Linked DNA regions of Homo sapiens: regions 2 and 3 are each linked to region 1. Evidence: fine-mapped expression QTL. A gene starts in region 1. Each other region holds a variant in brackets. All regions are shown on one strand. Distances are from middle to middle.

Evidence for each region. PIP is the estimated chance that this variant, and not a neighbour inherited with it, causes the effect.
Region 2: its variant is the best candidate, but not a certain one, in a credible set for the expression of EAPP in whole blood (INTERVAL, PIP 0.86).
Region 3: its variant is the best candidate, but not a certain one, in a credible set for the expression of EAPP in whole blood (TOPMed, PIP 0.60).

What each region holds. Positions count from the first base shown.
Region 1 is chr14:34,536,909-34,542,306 of GRCh38, forward strand. EAPP (E2F associated phosphoprotein) reads right to left here and starts at 2,793. Exons shown (of 6, transcript NM_018453.4): 1 at 2,647-2,793. The coding sequence starts at 2,720. LOC105370447 (a long non-coding RNA gene) reads left to right here and starts at 2,841. Exons shown (of 2, transcript XR_943739.1): 1 at 2,841-2,876; 2 at 3,278-4,798. It overlaps LOC112268123 (a long non-coding RNA gene), which reads right to left. Exons shown (of 2, transcript XR_002957583.1): 2 at 4,326-5,081. RefSeq lists silencers at 635-929, 2,871-2,970 and enhancers at 1,996-2,920, 2,571-2,730.
Region 2 is chr14:34,590,206-34,595,205 of GRCh38, forward strand. SNX6 (sorting nexin 6) reads right to left here. Exons shown (of 14, transcript NM_152233.4): 8 at 2,840-2,945. Among named protein-coding and RNA genes, the nearest start is that of SNX6, 37 kb to the right of the region's middle. The variant C/T (reference allele first, on the strand shown) is at 2,901.
Region 3 is chr14:34,622,678-34,627,677 of GRCh38, forward strand. The region is part of intron 2 of SNX6 (sorting nexin 6); the gene reads right to left. Among named protein-coding and RNA genes, the nearest start is that of SNX6, 5.0 kb to the right of the region's middle. RefSeq lists a silencer at 886-1,180. The variant C/T (reference allele first, on the strand shown) is at 2,940.

The DNA of each region.
Region 1 (5,398 bases):
ATCCTGGTTGTGATACTGCACTATAGTTTTGTAGTATGTTAACACTGGAGGAAACTGGGGAAAGAGTACACAGGATCTCTCTGTATTATTTCTTTTTTTTTTATTATTTTTTATTTTTTGAGATGGGGGTCTCCCTGTGTTGCCCAGGCTGGAGTGCAATGGTGCCATCTTGGCTCACTGAAACTTCCGCCTCCCAGGCTCAAGCCAACCAACCGCCTCACCCTCCTGAGTAGCTGGGACCACAGATATGCACCACCATACCAGCTAATTTTTTGTATTTTCAGTAAAGACATGATTTCATCATGTTGCTCAGGCTGGTCTTGAACTCTTGAGCTCAAGTGATTCTCCTGCCTTGGCCTTCCAAAGTGCTGGGATTACAGATGTGAGCCACTGCACCAGACCTGTATTATTTCTTATAACTGAATGTGAATCTACGAAAACTTCAAAATAAAATGTTTAATTTTTAAAAACTGAATCACAAAGTGAGAGCTATTTTTTCTACAAATTTTCTTCAATCCTTGTCATTATCTCAACCAAAGTCTCAGTTTTCAGCACTGCTGAGAAAGGCAGTCATACATCATGGACCCTAGATATGCAAGTTAAGTATGCCAAGAATGCAAGGTTCTGACCACTGTTCACTCCAGCCATTTCTCAGGATTGTGTTTGCAGCGAACAACAACCTTGAGGAATGAGATAATGTCTCCTTCCAGGACAAAGAGCAGATGTATTTACTGTCTTCTATGAAAGAGGTGGATTCTCCAAGCTCAAGTAGTCTTTAGCCACGATGCCAACCCACTGAATGTGCAGCATTCTTCTAGGACCCTCAGCGTAATACCTGTAGGGTTGACAAGCAAGAGCAAGCCACACAAACATGATGCTCATGCTGCTTGCTGTGCTATGTGTAGTCTTATCTTTGACCCAGGAGTCTCATGTCTTCGGTCAGCTACCGTGAAACAGTTAACAGGCTACAATGTATTAGTTTATAAACAGTGTAAAATTAAATACTGACAGACACCTCTCTAACACTAATCTCCCTTTTTAAAATAATAACCATTTGGCTCAGAGCCTACAACAGGCAATACTGTCTGATAACATTGTTTTGTTTTTATAATATTTATCTTTACAGTTACCTTACCAGTGGCAACTGTCACAGAATTATAAAGCTTCCTTAAAAAAATGATACAACAGTCCTGGCTCCGTGGCTCAGGCCTGTAATCCTAGCACTTTGGGAGCCCGACGCAGGCAGATTGCCTAAGGTCAGGAGTTCAAGACCAGCCTGGCCAACGTGGTGAAAACCCATCTCTACGAAAAATACAAAAAATAAGCCAGGTGTGGTAGCGCATGCCTGTAATCCCAGCTACCCAGGAGGCTGAGGCAGGAGAATTGCTGGAACCCAGGAGGTGGAGGCTACAGTGAGCCAAGATTGCACCAGTGCACTCCAGCCTGGCTGACAGAGTGAGACTCTGTCTCAAAATAAATAAATAAATAAATAAATAATTGAGACATACATATATACATACCTCCTTTCACAGACAGGACCCATTAACTGAAACTCTTTTTCACAGGGAATCCTGGTATCTATCCTCACTCCCAACAAAAGAAATCTTAACAGCAGTCTGATTTCCCATGCATCCAATGTCTCCCCATGACAATATGAGGAAACATTGTTCTTTTGATTTTTTTTTTTTTTAAGAAATGAGGTCTCACTATGTTGCCCAGGCTGTTCCTTTACTACCAGGCTTAAGAGATTCTCTCGCCTCAGACTCCCAAAGTCCTGGGATTACAGGCATGGGCCACCACACCCAGCCAAAGTTGTTAATGAAAGCATGGCTTTACAGAAAGCTTCTTTAGGCAGAATGAATGTTTTAAAGTTTAAGAATAGGATCTGCTGACAGCTTAAGAAATAACTAAATTTGTGTGGAAATATCTCGGCAAAACAGCTTCAAGTTTCCCTGGTAGAATAAAGCCCACCCTTCTGGAAATCCCACGAACCTTCTTCTGTGCCTATCTCAGGTCAATATTCTCTACAATGCTCTGCCAAGAAATATATACTTTATCTTATTACCCTTATTATACTATAAGCCTCTGGAAGACAAGGACCTTATGATTTATCTCTGTAGCTCAGAGCGAGCATACAACAGTCCCTGTCAAAAAATAAAAATAAAAAAGGCTGTTCAATATTCCCTTATTTCTGTTTATGGCAGTTTAGTCTTCAAGATGGACACTTCACATTAAGTCCTGTGAGCCTCACAACAAACATAGTGTGTTATACTATGTTATATAGGTTATACAATTATGTTATTATAGTTCAATTTTACAGGTGAGTAATCGAGGATAACTGACTTGCCTTCCGTCACTCTGCTACTAAGGTGTAGAGACAGGTTTCGATCTCATTGCTTTTGAAGATTTACACGCGGTCCCCCGTGATTCCGGAATATCCCTCTTCCTACAGGCGACATCGGCACCGCCTCCCCCCGGGACTGCGCGACCCCATCAGGAAAGCCCTTTGGCTTCGCACAAGTAACAGGCACGACAGGCTCCCGAGCCGCTAGGGTCTGCGTAGGCTCGGCAGGCGCAACGAATGGAGGCGACCAAAGCCAGGCCTCGACCCAAATCCTCGGGGGCCAGGGTGGGGCGGGAGCCCACCTGCTCAAAGCCGGCTCCTCGTCGCTAGGCTCTTCAACCGCGTAGGGGTCGTAGTCATCCGGAAGCCGGTTCATGGTGGCCTGCAGCGGCCTACACCGTCCACAAGCAATTTGCAGCGTCTCTGTTTACACTGCAAGTCCAGTCCCTAAAGCGCCCCTGACGCCACTTCCGCCTGAACGTCCCAGTCCCCCTTGCGCGCCCGCGCAGACCGACAGCACCGAGGGAGGCAGGTAGAAGGCGGGGAAGGGGCGGAGCAGGAGCGAAAAGGGGCGGGGACGGGACGGGGGCGGGTCTTAATCCCACCATTTTTGTTTTGTTTTGTTTTTTGGAGACGGAGTTTCGCTCTTGTTGCCCAGGCTGGAGTGCAATGGCGCGATCTCGGCTCACCGCAACCTCCGCCTCCCAGGTTCAAGCAATTCTCCTACCGCAGCCTCCCGAGTAGCTGGGATTACAGGCATACACCACCACGCCCGGCTAATTTTGTATTTTTAGTAGAGACGGGGGTTTCTCCATGTTGAGGCTGGTCTCGAACTCCGGACCTCAGGTGATCCGCCCACCTCGACCTTCCAAAATGCTGGGATTACAGGCGTGAGCCACCGCTCCCGGCCAATCCCACCATTTTCTTCCGCAGCTTCTGCTTACAGGAAAATAGCAGCTACCTTGTCACCAAAAATAATAATGATGGGCACCCTCATAAGTGACAGTCTCTGAGGTGAACATGCTACATGCAGCGTCTCATCACCTACGAAGCAGGAATCTAGACGCTGAGGGACACACAGCCCGAAATCCAATAAGTCCTCAGACACCAGCACCCACATCCCTCCAACCTCGCCTCTAACCCTTATGCCTTCCACACCATGAGGCTCTCAACCTCTCCTTCACACTGTTCACTCCTCAGTCTGACTGCGGCCTCAACAATCTACGAAAAGTTATCTTTTCTCGTCATCTTCCCAGTCCCCACTTTTGCTCAGCCCTCAACTGATCCCACTCGATACCTGAGGAGAACAGGCAGATGACAGCCACTTGAGCTCCATCGGGAGACTGTTTCTAACCCTGTTTCTGAACCAGGAACTCGGGTTCCTGCCTCCTACCGAGACACTGTGGCACTCTCTAAAATGTGGAGTAGCTGTAATAAATCTACTCCTGTATTATGCTTTACAGTGCAGGTCTTAGTTTTTCTTTTTTCTCATTTCTTTTGAAATGGCATCTCGAACAAAGTCCACCAATCCCTTTACAAAAGAATGAACTGCTCCTCTGTGTGTACTTCATAGAAGGTGGAATCGGACAGAAGCAGGTTAGTGACAGTTATTCCTGAAATACAGGAGCAGAGTACAGTCTGTTGTGGTTTCCCGGATTCCGCGCCTAGCTCAGCCAATTAAGCATGAGACATAGGCCATTGAGCCACTTAGTAGTTATGCGAGTGGATAGATTGGTATGTAGAGGGAAAGAGGTCTGCTGTAAAGAACAACACTTGTTTGTCTGTGGGGAAAGAAAAGCAGAATACTTGAGATGAAAGTTGGCATACAAATAGGATACTATCGCCAGTAGTTATATTACAAACATTATCGGCCTTTCTAGTGTGAATGAACATTAGACACATTATTGTCATTCCTAGTTTAAAGTTAAGGTTGCGTGGTTGGATTTTTCCACTATCTTTTTCTAATTTTTCTACCATTTGGAGACCGTAGGCATTTGGGCCTGTCACCCCTTGGATGGGTTCCTAGTTTGTTTACATTTTCCTGAACCCTCCTGAGCGCCCGTTCTTGGTCTAATCCCCAGTCGTGATGATTCCACACTTCCTCAGCCGCATGTTGTCTTGCCTCATTCATGAGCTGGTCAGCGTTTCGTCTCTTTAACTGACATGTTCCCCAGTGCTGTTTGAACTGTTGAGTTTCCGTTGCTGGCTGAGTGCGTTTTGTCCTTCACGTAACCTTCGCTGGTAAAAATAAGCCCATGTGATGTCCACCAGTGGATGAATGCTGGACCGAGAGCCCTAGCTTCTGGATCCAGGTCTAGGCCCTTCATCTGCTGCTCTGTGGCCCAGGGCAGGTTTGCTTGACCTCTGCCTCAGTTCTCGACTCTAAAGGACATACTGACCTACCTCACAGGGGTGTTGTGAGGATTAATAAATGTTGGTACTCTGCTTTGGAAATGTGAAAATGCTGTGTAAATGTTAAGAAATACTAAGTATAGGGCCAGAAGCTATACAGTGTTTCACTTAACCGTTTGCCATTCTGTATTTACCAAGGTGGTCTTTTCTGGGGAAGGAAGTAGAGTGGAAGGTGCATCCCTTGGCCCCTGGTTTACATTATTAGGGTGCTTATTGTAGGAATGCACTCTAAAAAGTGGGCGTAGAATGAAAGCAGCCGTCCAGTGGTCCTCCCTTTTCTGTAGTTTCACTTTTCTTGCTTCAAGTTACAGCAGTCACCTGAAATCTGAAAATACTAAATGAAAAACTCCAGAAACAATTTATGTCTTAAATGTTGTGCTGTTCTGAGTAGCGTGATGAAATCTGTTGCCGTCCTACCTGGAACATTGAGTCATGCCTCTGTCCAGTGTGTCCATGCTGTATACACTGTCCACCCATCAACCAACCACTAAGTAGCTGTCTTGGTTGTCAACATAACAGATCACAAGAAGATTGAGGTTGGGTGTGGTGGCTTACCCCTGTAATCCCAGCACTGTGGGGGTCCAAAGTGGGAAGATTGCTTGAGCCCAGGAGTTCAAGACCAGCCTGGGCAACTAAGCGAGA
Region 2 (5,000 bases), 53 kb after region 1:
ATTACGAGGTGAGGAGATTGAAACCATCCTGGCTAACACAGTGAAACCCTGTCACTACTAAAAATACAAAAAATTAGCCGGGCGTGGTGGCGGGCACCTGTAGTCCCAGGTTCTCGGGAGGCTGAGGCAGGAGAATGGCGTAAACCCAGGAGGTGGAGCTTGCAGTGAGCCAAGATTCCGCCACTGCACTCCAGCAGCCTGGGCGACAGAGCAAGACTTCGTCTCAAAAAAAAAAAAAAAGAATAAAGCTGAAGGAAGAAGGACACAAGAAAAGATGTTGAACCTCAACAGTCATTAGGACAATACAAATCTAAACCACACTGAGTTACCACCACTGACCTACTTGAATAAAGTTAAAAAGACTTCAAATTCCACTGGGGAAAAAAAAAAGACTGACTATCCTTGTTGGCAAAGATGTGGAGCAACTGGAACTCTCATGCCCTGCTCGTGGGAATGCAAAATGGTACAACCATTGTGGAAAAAAAAATTGGTAGTTTCTTAAAAAGTTAAATATTCATTTACCACATGACTCAGGCATTCTACTTCTAGGTATTACCCAAGAGAAAGAAAGCATGTCCGTACAAAAAGTTATATAGAAATGGCTCACATAAATTGTATCTGTAATAGCCAAAGCTAGAAATAAATAATTGTTGTATATCCATTCAATGGAACACTACTTAGCAACAAAAAGAAATGAACTATCGATATACACAACAACTTGGATGAATCTCAAAATAGTTTTTTGAGTTTCAAAGCCAGACAATAAAGAATACATACTGTATGATTCAATTTATATAAAATACTAAAAAATACAAACTAATCTATAGTGACAGAAAGCAGATCAGTGGCTGCCTGGGGATAGGGCAGGAGGGAGAGATTTCAAAGGGCCACAAGAAAACTTTGGGGGTGATGTGTGTGTTCATTATTTTGATTGTGGTAAGGATTTCACACATGCCAAAACTTACCAAATTGTACACTTTGATTACTGCAGCTTACTGATATCAATTACACTCAACAAAGCTGTTAAAAAAAAAACCCTCACTGGTCTATTTTGCACTTTGAGTGGTTCTTTTACATATATGATTTTGTAGCATTATGCACTTGGCCGTTTAGAAAACATTGGTCCAATGAATTATGCAGATGTTCTAAGTGGTGACACAATTCAATGTACAATTTTTTAAAAAATCACATTCACTAGTATCATCATCAATCTCTATATGGGTCTTTATTGGTCTATCTAGCCGGGCACGGTGGCAGGCGCCTGTAATCCCAGCTACTTGGGAGGCTGAGGCAGGAGAATTGCTTGAACCTGGCAATGGCAGTGGCAGAGGCTGCAGTGAGACGAGATCGTACCATTGCACTCCAGCCTGGGCAACAGAGACTCCGCCTCAAAAAAAAAAATTGCAAGTGCATGGCAGGAAAGAACATACAGACTACCAGTCCAGTATCTATTGGGAAGTAAGCTCATGGTCAGAGAGATAAAGTTTTCCAAAATTCGAATTATTGCTTGAAGCTTGACTTATCATTGGCAACAAATACTACCTTTGTTTTCCTTGAAATAACTGATGGATTTTTGGCCAGGTTCCTCTAATTTAAATAATTAGTTGATTTTTGAGAAAACATTTGCCAAATATTCATAAACAGTTTATCAGTCATTCTCTAAAGTAAAAGTAGTGTTCTACGAAAAAATTAGCTAGTTCAATCACAACTCTATCACTAAAATGCTTTTCTAGAGAACCATCATACTTGAGTATGTAGCCAAAGTGCTTTATGCATACCTCCTATTTCATCACTCAGAATATTTAAAAATGTATACCCAAGGGTAGAGATTACAATCAATTTTTACTGTTTCATCAAGGGCATTCTTAAGTGAAAGTCACATGTCTTAAAAATTGCAAGTGGCCAGGTGCGGTGGCTCACGCCTGTAATCCCTGCACTTTGGAAGGCCAAGGCGGGTGGATCATGAGGTCAGGAGTTCAAGACCATCCTGGCCAAGACTGTGAAACCCCATCTCTACTAAAAATACAAAAATTAGCCAGGCGCGGTGGCAGGTGCCTGTAATCCCAGCTACTTGGGAGGCTGAGGCAGGAGAACTGCTTGAACTTGGGCGGCTGAGGTTGTTGCAGTGAGCTGAGATTGCACCGCTGCACTCCAGCCTGGGCGATAGAGACTCTGTCTCAAAGAAAAAAAAAAGAGCAAGTGCATGGCCGGAAAGAATATAGAGACTACTCGTCCAGTTTGTTGCCACTGACTTGATTTGTATGTAATTACGCAGCAGCAACTTTATCCATCATCGGTGTAAATGTCAACATGGTGAAAAAGGCAAAAACTATCACAGTATCATTATAAAAATAGTTGTTGTTTTGTTGCTGTCTAGACAGTCTCACTCTGTCACCCAGACTGAAGTATGGTGGTACGATCCATCACAGCTCACTGCAGCCTCAACCTCCCAGGCCCAAGGCATCCTCCCACCTTAGCTTTCCTAGTAGCTGGGACCACAGCCATGCGGCACCACGTCTGGCTAATTTTATTTTTTATATCAGGCTGGTGCAATACAAACAGGATCTTACTCTGTTGCTCAGGCTGGTCTTGAATTCCTGGGCTCAAGTGATATTCCCGCTTCAGCCTCCAAAAGTGTCGTGATCACAGGCGTGAGCCACTGTGCCCAGCTGAAAATAGTTTTGACCTCACAGGCTCACTATAAAAGGGCCATGGAGCCTAGGCTCCAACAGACCAGTTTGAGAACTACTGCTCTATATTAAGACTTTTTCAAACTATAATATGAACTTTATAATTATTCCATTAAAAGATATAAGCTTTAGCCACAGAAAAATCTTACTTTTGTGGGATCTTGTCATTCTATCAGATTTAGCAGATGCATCCTTAACTCGGTTATGATA[C/T]TCCAAAAGAAATGTTCGTTCGTGCTCAAAGAAATCATCTACATCCTATAAGATCAAAAGAAAATATAAACTTTTTTCACTTATTTGCTTTAGTTTTATATGTAAATAACTATCATTATAAATATAAAAGATCATCAGTAAAATAGCATACCTATCCTCAGTCAGATGTTATTATACTAATTTCACCAACAAGACTTTAATAGACATGCATTTCTATCTATCAAGTAAGAAATCTTCTATGACTTTGCAACTGAAGGCTTAGTGCTCCCCATATAGGTCCAAGTTCACGTGCTGTACTCTTTTTTTTTTTTTGAGATGGAGTCTCACTCTGTCACCTAGGCTGGAGTGCAGTGGCGTGATCTTGGTTCACTGCAACCTCTGCCTCCCGGGTTCAAGCGATTCTCCTGCCTCAGCGTCCCAATAGCTGGGACTACAGGTGCACACCACCACACCCAGCTAATTTCTTTTCTTTTTTTTTTTTTTTTTAGGCAAAGTCTCGCTCTGTCACCAGGCTGGAGTGCAGTGGCGCGATCTTGGCTCACTGCAACCTCAGCCTCCTGGGTTCAAGTGATTCTCCTGCCTCAGCCTCCTGAGTAGCTGAGACTACAGGCAAGCGCCACCACGCCCAGCTAATTTTTTTTTTTTTGTATTTTTAGTAGAGACAGGGTTTCACCACATTGGTCATGCTGGTCTCGAACTCCTCACCTCATGATCCGCCCACCTCGGCCTCCCAAAGTGCTGGAATTACAGATGTGACCCACCACGCCCAGCCTAATTTTTGTATTTTTTTAGTAGAGACAGGGTTTCGCCATGTTGGCCAGGCTGGTCTCAAGTTTCTGACCTCAAGTGATCCGCGCGCCTCGGCCTCCCAACGTGCTAAAGTGCTGGGATTACAGGCATGAGCCACCGCACTTGGCCTCACATATTGTACTCTGAAACATGTTCTTATTTGTGATCTGCCTCTACAATTTTGCTCTTCAATAAACATATTATTGCCAGCAGAAGTGATCAATTCCTTTTAAGGAAAAAGAAAACAGTTCTGGTGGACAGAAGTGAAAATCTATTTTTCTTGGCCTGTTATACATTCTACTGGCCATTCCTGAAGGCTGCCTAGCCTTAGTCATTAAGGCCCTTTCTGACTGCACTGAGGAACCTGACCAAACTATCTGAGAGCAACAATGTGATTAACCACTGTCTTCAACCTTTTTTTTTTTTTTGAAACAAAGCTAGATATACATTAAAAATAAAAATTATTATTATTATCTTCAGACAGAGTCTTGCTTTGTAATCCAGGCTGGACTGCAGTGGTGCAAACATGGCTCACTGCAGCCTCAACCTCCCTGGCTCAAGCAATCCTCCTGATTCAGCATCCCAAGTAGCTGGGACTACAGGCGCATGCCACAACGCCAAGCTAATTTTTGTATTTTTTATAGAGACAGGGTTTTGTCATGTTGTCATGTTGCCCAGGCTGGTCTTAAACTCCTGAGTTCAAGTGACCCACCTGCCTCAGCCTCCCAAAGTGTTAGGATTACAGGAGTGAGCCACTGCACCTGGCACAAAAATAAAATTAATAGTATTTTACCCCCTTCTACATTACCAATCATTAAATGAAAAAGCATCTGCTGACAGGATATAATTGGAGACCCATATCAACAGAACACAAGCAGCAAGAGTCAGTACTGACAAAATGTGACTGAAATCTGTAATTCAGCTGGATACAGTGGCTCACACCTGTAATCCCAGCACTTTGGGGAGGCCGAGGTGGGCAGATCACTTGAGCCCAGGAGTTCAGCCTGGGCAACATGGCAAAACTCTGTCTCTACAAAAAATACAAAAATTAGCTGGGTGTGATGGCACGTACCTATAGTTCCAGCTACTTGGGAGGTTGAAGTGGGAGGATCGCCTGAGCCTGGGAGGCAGAGGTTGCAGTGAGCCGAGATTGGGGCACTGCACAGCAGCCTAAGGCAACAGAGCAAGACCCTGTCTCAAAATGCAAAATAAAATAAAAAATAAATATTAAAATAAAATTCATAATTCATAATATGTAACAGTTCCCTCTCTCTCTTTCGCCCAAGCTGGAGTGCAATGGCACAATCTTGG
Region 3 (5,000 bases), 86 kb after region 1:
CAGTAAGAACAAGTGCTCTAGGAGGAACCAAATTACCAACACATGCCATCCTCCCTGTTGGAAAGCAGACCAATAGCACAGTGGTTAAGAGCCAGGCCCTAGAGCTAGATTGCCTATTTGACCACAGCTCCTACCGGCTGTATGACCTTGGGCAAGTTATTTAATGTCTCTGCAACTCAGTTTTCCTTTCCCAAATAGGAATAACAGTAGGTGTATTTCATAGGGATTTGAGAATTGAGTTTATATGGAAAGTCCCTGACATGCAGTGAATGCATGTAAGTGTGTAACTATCATTATGTCTTTACTACTACCCCTTCCCCTAAAGTTGAACACTTTTACTTTGTACTCCCATACACTTCATTGCAAGGGATTATAACTCTATCTCCTTCACTACACTGTGATGGTCTCAGGGCAGGAACTTTGTCTTATTGATCTTTTTAATCCTCAGCCAACATAATATATGTCACATTTTTATGTGAAGTAACTATCAATAAATGTGGCATGTGTTTAAGCTAAAAAGTGTGCAGGTGCAAAACAAAATGCAAGCATCTGGGCCAAATTCAAGTTGAATTTGAAGCGAAAGAAAAGGTGAGGGGGAAAAAAAACACTGAAATGCATGCATAAAACAGACAGTCAAGTGTAGACGTACTTGGGCAATGGGGAGTAGACTAGAATATGGGGGAGGGGATATTGAGAAATGAAGCCAGTCAGAAAAGGTTATGAACAGAGTTGAATGTTAGCCTAAGGAGTTTGGACCTTACCCCCCAAAAAAAGGGGTCCAAGGAAGTCCTTTTCACTAACGTGCTATATGGTTTAATCATTTTAGTAATATAAGTAATTTGACGACTGAATTGGAAAGTAGAAAGACTAAAGACAGAGACTAAGGAGAGGTACTGCTACTATCCAAGCAGGAAGAAGCAAGGAGCTTAAATGGAACCAAGCACATGAAAGATGGGATAAACAACATTTCCAAGGTGAAATTAACTGGCCTCAATGACTGTTCTGATATAAAGATGAAGGATATGACTCAGAGGTTTCTTGCCGGCACAACTGGAAAGTGATGCTATTAATGAAGATAAGGAATACAAAGGTAGGAGCAAGGCTACGAGTACAGGAGAACAAGTAGTTACTCCACCTAAAGTAATTCTTGAAAACAATAAACATATTATTTAGAACTGAAATCAAGTGCAAAGAGAATCATGCCATCACTCTGGCATGCACTGTTCTTATTTAACAAGCACATCAGAAAAAAAATGTGTCCAATTCAAAGGGCTCATTTGTGTACTAAATAATATGTTACTGTCCTTTATTTGGGGGAGGAAAAACCTATTATATAGAGGTAGGGCTAAAGAGATGAAAATGTGGCCAATATTTTTCAACACTATGTATTCTTGAAGCCTGCTTTTTAAATTTCTCACAAAACAATATTTTCCTTTTTTTTTGAGACAGTTTCGCTCTTGTCGCCCAGGCTGGAGTGCAATGGCACAGTCTCGGCTCACTGCAACCTCTGCCTCCTGGGTTCAAGTGATTTTCCTGCCTCAGCCTCCCAAGTAGCTGGGATTACAGGCACCAGCCATCACGCCCGGCTAATTTTTGTATTTTTAGTAGAGATGGGGTTTCACCATGTGGGCCAGGCAGGTCTTTAACTCCTGACCTCAGGTGATCTGCCCATCTCGGCCTCGCAAAGTGCTGGGATTACATGCATGAGACACTGCGCCTGGCCAAAACAATGTTTTCTTAGGGCACTAAGATTCTGTTCTAATCGAAATATCATGATGAAAATGTACAGCTGCTTAAAGATTTATTTTAAAACACTGACTTTAATTTTGCTTACTTGTAGCTGGACGCTGTGGCTCACACCTGTAATCCCAGCACTTTGGGAGGCTGAGGAGGGTGGATCATGAAGTCAAGAGATCAAGACCATCCTGGCCAACATGGTGAAACCTCGTCTCTACTAAAAATACAAAAATTAGCTGGGCGTGGTGGCGTGCACCTGTAGTCCCAGCTACTCAGGAGGCTGAGGCAGGAGAATAGCTTGAACTTGGGAGCCAGAGGTTGCAGTGAGTCAAGGTCGCACCACTGCACTCCAGCCTAGCGACAGAGCAAGACTCCGTCTAGGAAAAAAAAAAAAATTTTTTTTGCTTACTTGCTGCTTTACATGAAATGCTAGTTATTATTTTTGAATGTGCTGTCCCCTTTGCAACTTGTATCAATATGTACTTCATGCTTTTTCTGTCAAAATTCCCCTTTCTTTTCGAGACAGAGTCTCGCACTGTTGCCCAGGCTGGAGTGCAATGGCACGCTCTCAGCTCACTGCAACCTCCGCCTCCTGGGTTCCAGTGATTCTCCCGCCTCAGCCTCCCGAGTAGGTGGGATTACAGGTGCCCGCCACCATGCCCAGCTAATTTTCTGTATTTTTAGCAGGGACAGGGTTTCACTATGTTGGTCAGGCTGGTCTCGAACTCCCGACCTCGTGATCCACCCACCTCTGCCTCCCAAAGTGTTGGGATTATAGGAGTGAGCCACTGTGACCAGCCAAGACTCCCTTTCTTAAAAGGCTCAACAAGATGATCTAAACTAAAAATGCAATGCCTAAAAGTTCTAATTATGGTAATCTATTTCTATCAGGACAAACACAATGTAAGGAAATTTAAACAGGCCAGATATTTCTATTCCTAAAATGAGGAAATAGCAGGATAACTTTCTGCAGCAGTAATCAAATTTCAGTGCACAAACAGAAACTCCTTGGGTGCTGGTCAAAAAAGCAGTTATCGGCCGGGCGCGGTGGCTCACACCTGTAATCCCAGCACTTTGGGAGGCCGAGGCGGGCAGATCCCCTGTGGTCAGGAGTTTGAGACCAGCCTGGCCAACATGGTGTAACCCTGTCTCTACTAAAAATACAAAAAAATTAGCCAGGCCTGGTGGCGGGCACCTATAAT[C/T]CCAGCTACTCAGGAGGCTGAGACAGGAGAATCACCTTAACCCGGGAGGTGGAGGTTGCAGTGAGCCAAGATTGCCACTGCACCCCAGCGTGGGCAACAGAGCGAGACCCTGTCTCAAAAAAAATTTAAAAAAAAAATGCAGTTATCTGCCCATATGTAGAGGTGGGGCTGAAGAGATCAAAGTGTGACCAACAGTTTTCAATACTGTGTATTCCCTACCCTAAGAGATTCTGATTTAGTGAGGAGGTGACACCCAGAAACTTTCATTTTGATTTTCAAATGCACCAGGTAATTCTAATGCAAGTATTTCAAGGCCACTTTGAGAAACCTGTGCAGTGGCTCTGATATCAGAAATGTGTTTTAAAGTCCAGCTCTCCCATTTGTTGCTGTGTGACCTCAGACTACTAACTTAGTTTCTCTGAAGTTCGGATTTCTCATTAGAAAAAGGGGGATACTAAAGGCTTTAGAGGGATGATGAAATATAATGAAATATAAATATAATGAAACAATGATTATGCTGTGCCCACCTATAATTTTATAATTATTATGATTCACCCAGTTCCACGGGACAAAAATAAGGAAGAACTGGGTAAGTGTATATATCCATCCTGATGTTCTAAAAGCATTCTAATTCAGGTTTTTTTCCATTTCCATATTAAAATTTTCATCTACAGGATTCTATAAGAACATCACAGTCAGGAGTGCTCTTTTGTCTTCCTCTCCCTTTAATTTTGTAATACATGAAAAAGTCTCTGGGGCCAGGCACGGTGGCTCACGCCTGTAATTCCAGCACTTTGGGAGGCCGAGGCAGGCAGATCACAACGTCAGGAGATCTAGACCATCCTGGCTAACAAGGTGAAACCCCGCCTCTACTAAAAAAAAAAAAAAATGCAAAAAATTAGCCGGGCACGGTCGCGCACTCCTGTAGTCCCAGCTACTCAGGAGGCTAAGGCAGGAGAATGGCATAGCATGAACCCAGGAGGCAGAGCTTGCAGCGAGCTGAGATCACGCCACTGCACTCCAGCCTGGGCAACAGAGCGAGACTCCATTTCAAAAAAAAAAAAAGAGAAAGTTTCTGGACAAATTACTTAAGGGCTTCCAGTTTCATGAGCAAATCTTTCTGAAGGCATAAAGCCATGAACACAAATATTCACCAAAAAATACTTTTCACAACATCAACATACTCAAAAATTAGTATTTTTACTGAACATTATTAAGATCCTCCAAGAAAGCAAATCCTGTTTGCTTGTGCTAGTAGACACCAAAAATAGGACATAAAGTTATCTAAAGGTCATATGCTTTATATTTAGAATAATTAGTTTAATTGTGCTATAATCAACTCCTCATACTTCATTAAGTAACTCTGCTAGTTTCCGCTATTTTAAAACCCGAAATACAATTTTAAAAATTTTTTTAGAGACAGGACCTCACTCTGTCACCCTGGCTCTCTCAAGCCATAGCTCATTGTTCTCAAGCTCTCAGCCTCTCAAATAGCTAGGACTACAGGTATATACCACCAAGCTTGCCTAAGTTTAAAAAAAAATTGTTGGCCAGGCGCGGTGGCTCACGCCTGTAATCCCAGCACTTTGGGAGGCAGAGGCGGGCGGATCACGAGGTCAGGAGATCGAGACCATCCTGGCTAACACGGTGAAACCCCGTCTCTACTAAAAATACAAAAAAATTAGCCAGGTGCGGTGGCGGGCGCCTGTAGTCCCAGCTACTCAGGAGGCTGAGGCAGGACAATGGCGTGAATCCGGGAGGCGGAGCTTGCAGTGAGCCAAGATAGCACCACTGCAGTCGGGCCTTCGGCCTGGGCGAAAGAGCGAGACTCCGTTTCAAAAAAAAAAAAAATTGTTTTTTCTTTTTTTTCTTTTTTTGAGATGGAGTTTTGCTCTTGTTGCCCAGGCTGGAGTGCAATGGTGCAATCTCAGCTCACTGCAACCTCCACCTCCCAGGTTCCAGTGAATGAATCCAGTGATTCTCCTGCCTCAGCCTCTGAAGTAACTGGAATTACAGGCATGCGCCACCATGCCCAGCTAATTTTTGTATTTTTAGTAGAGA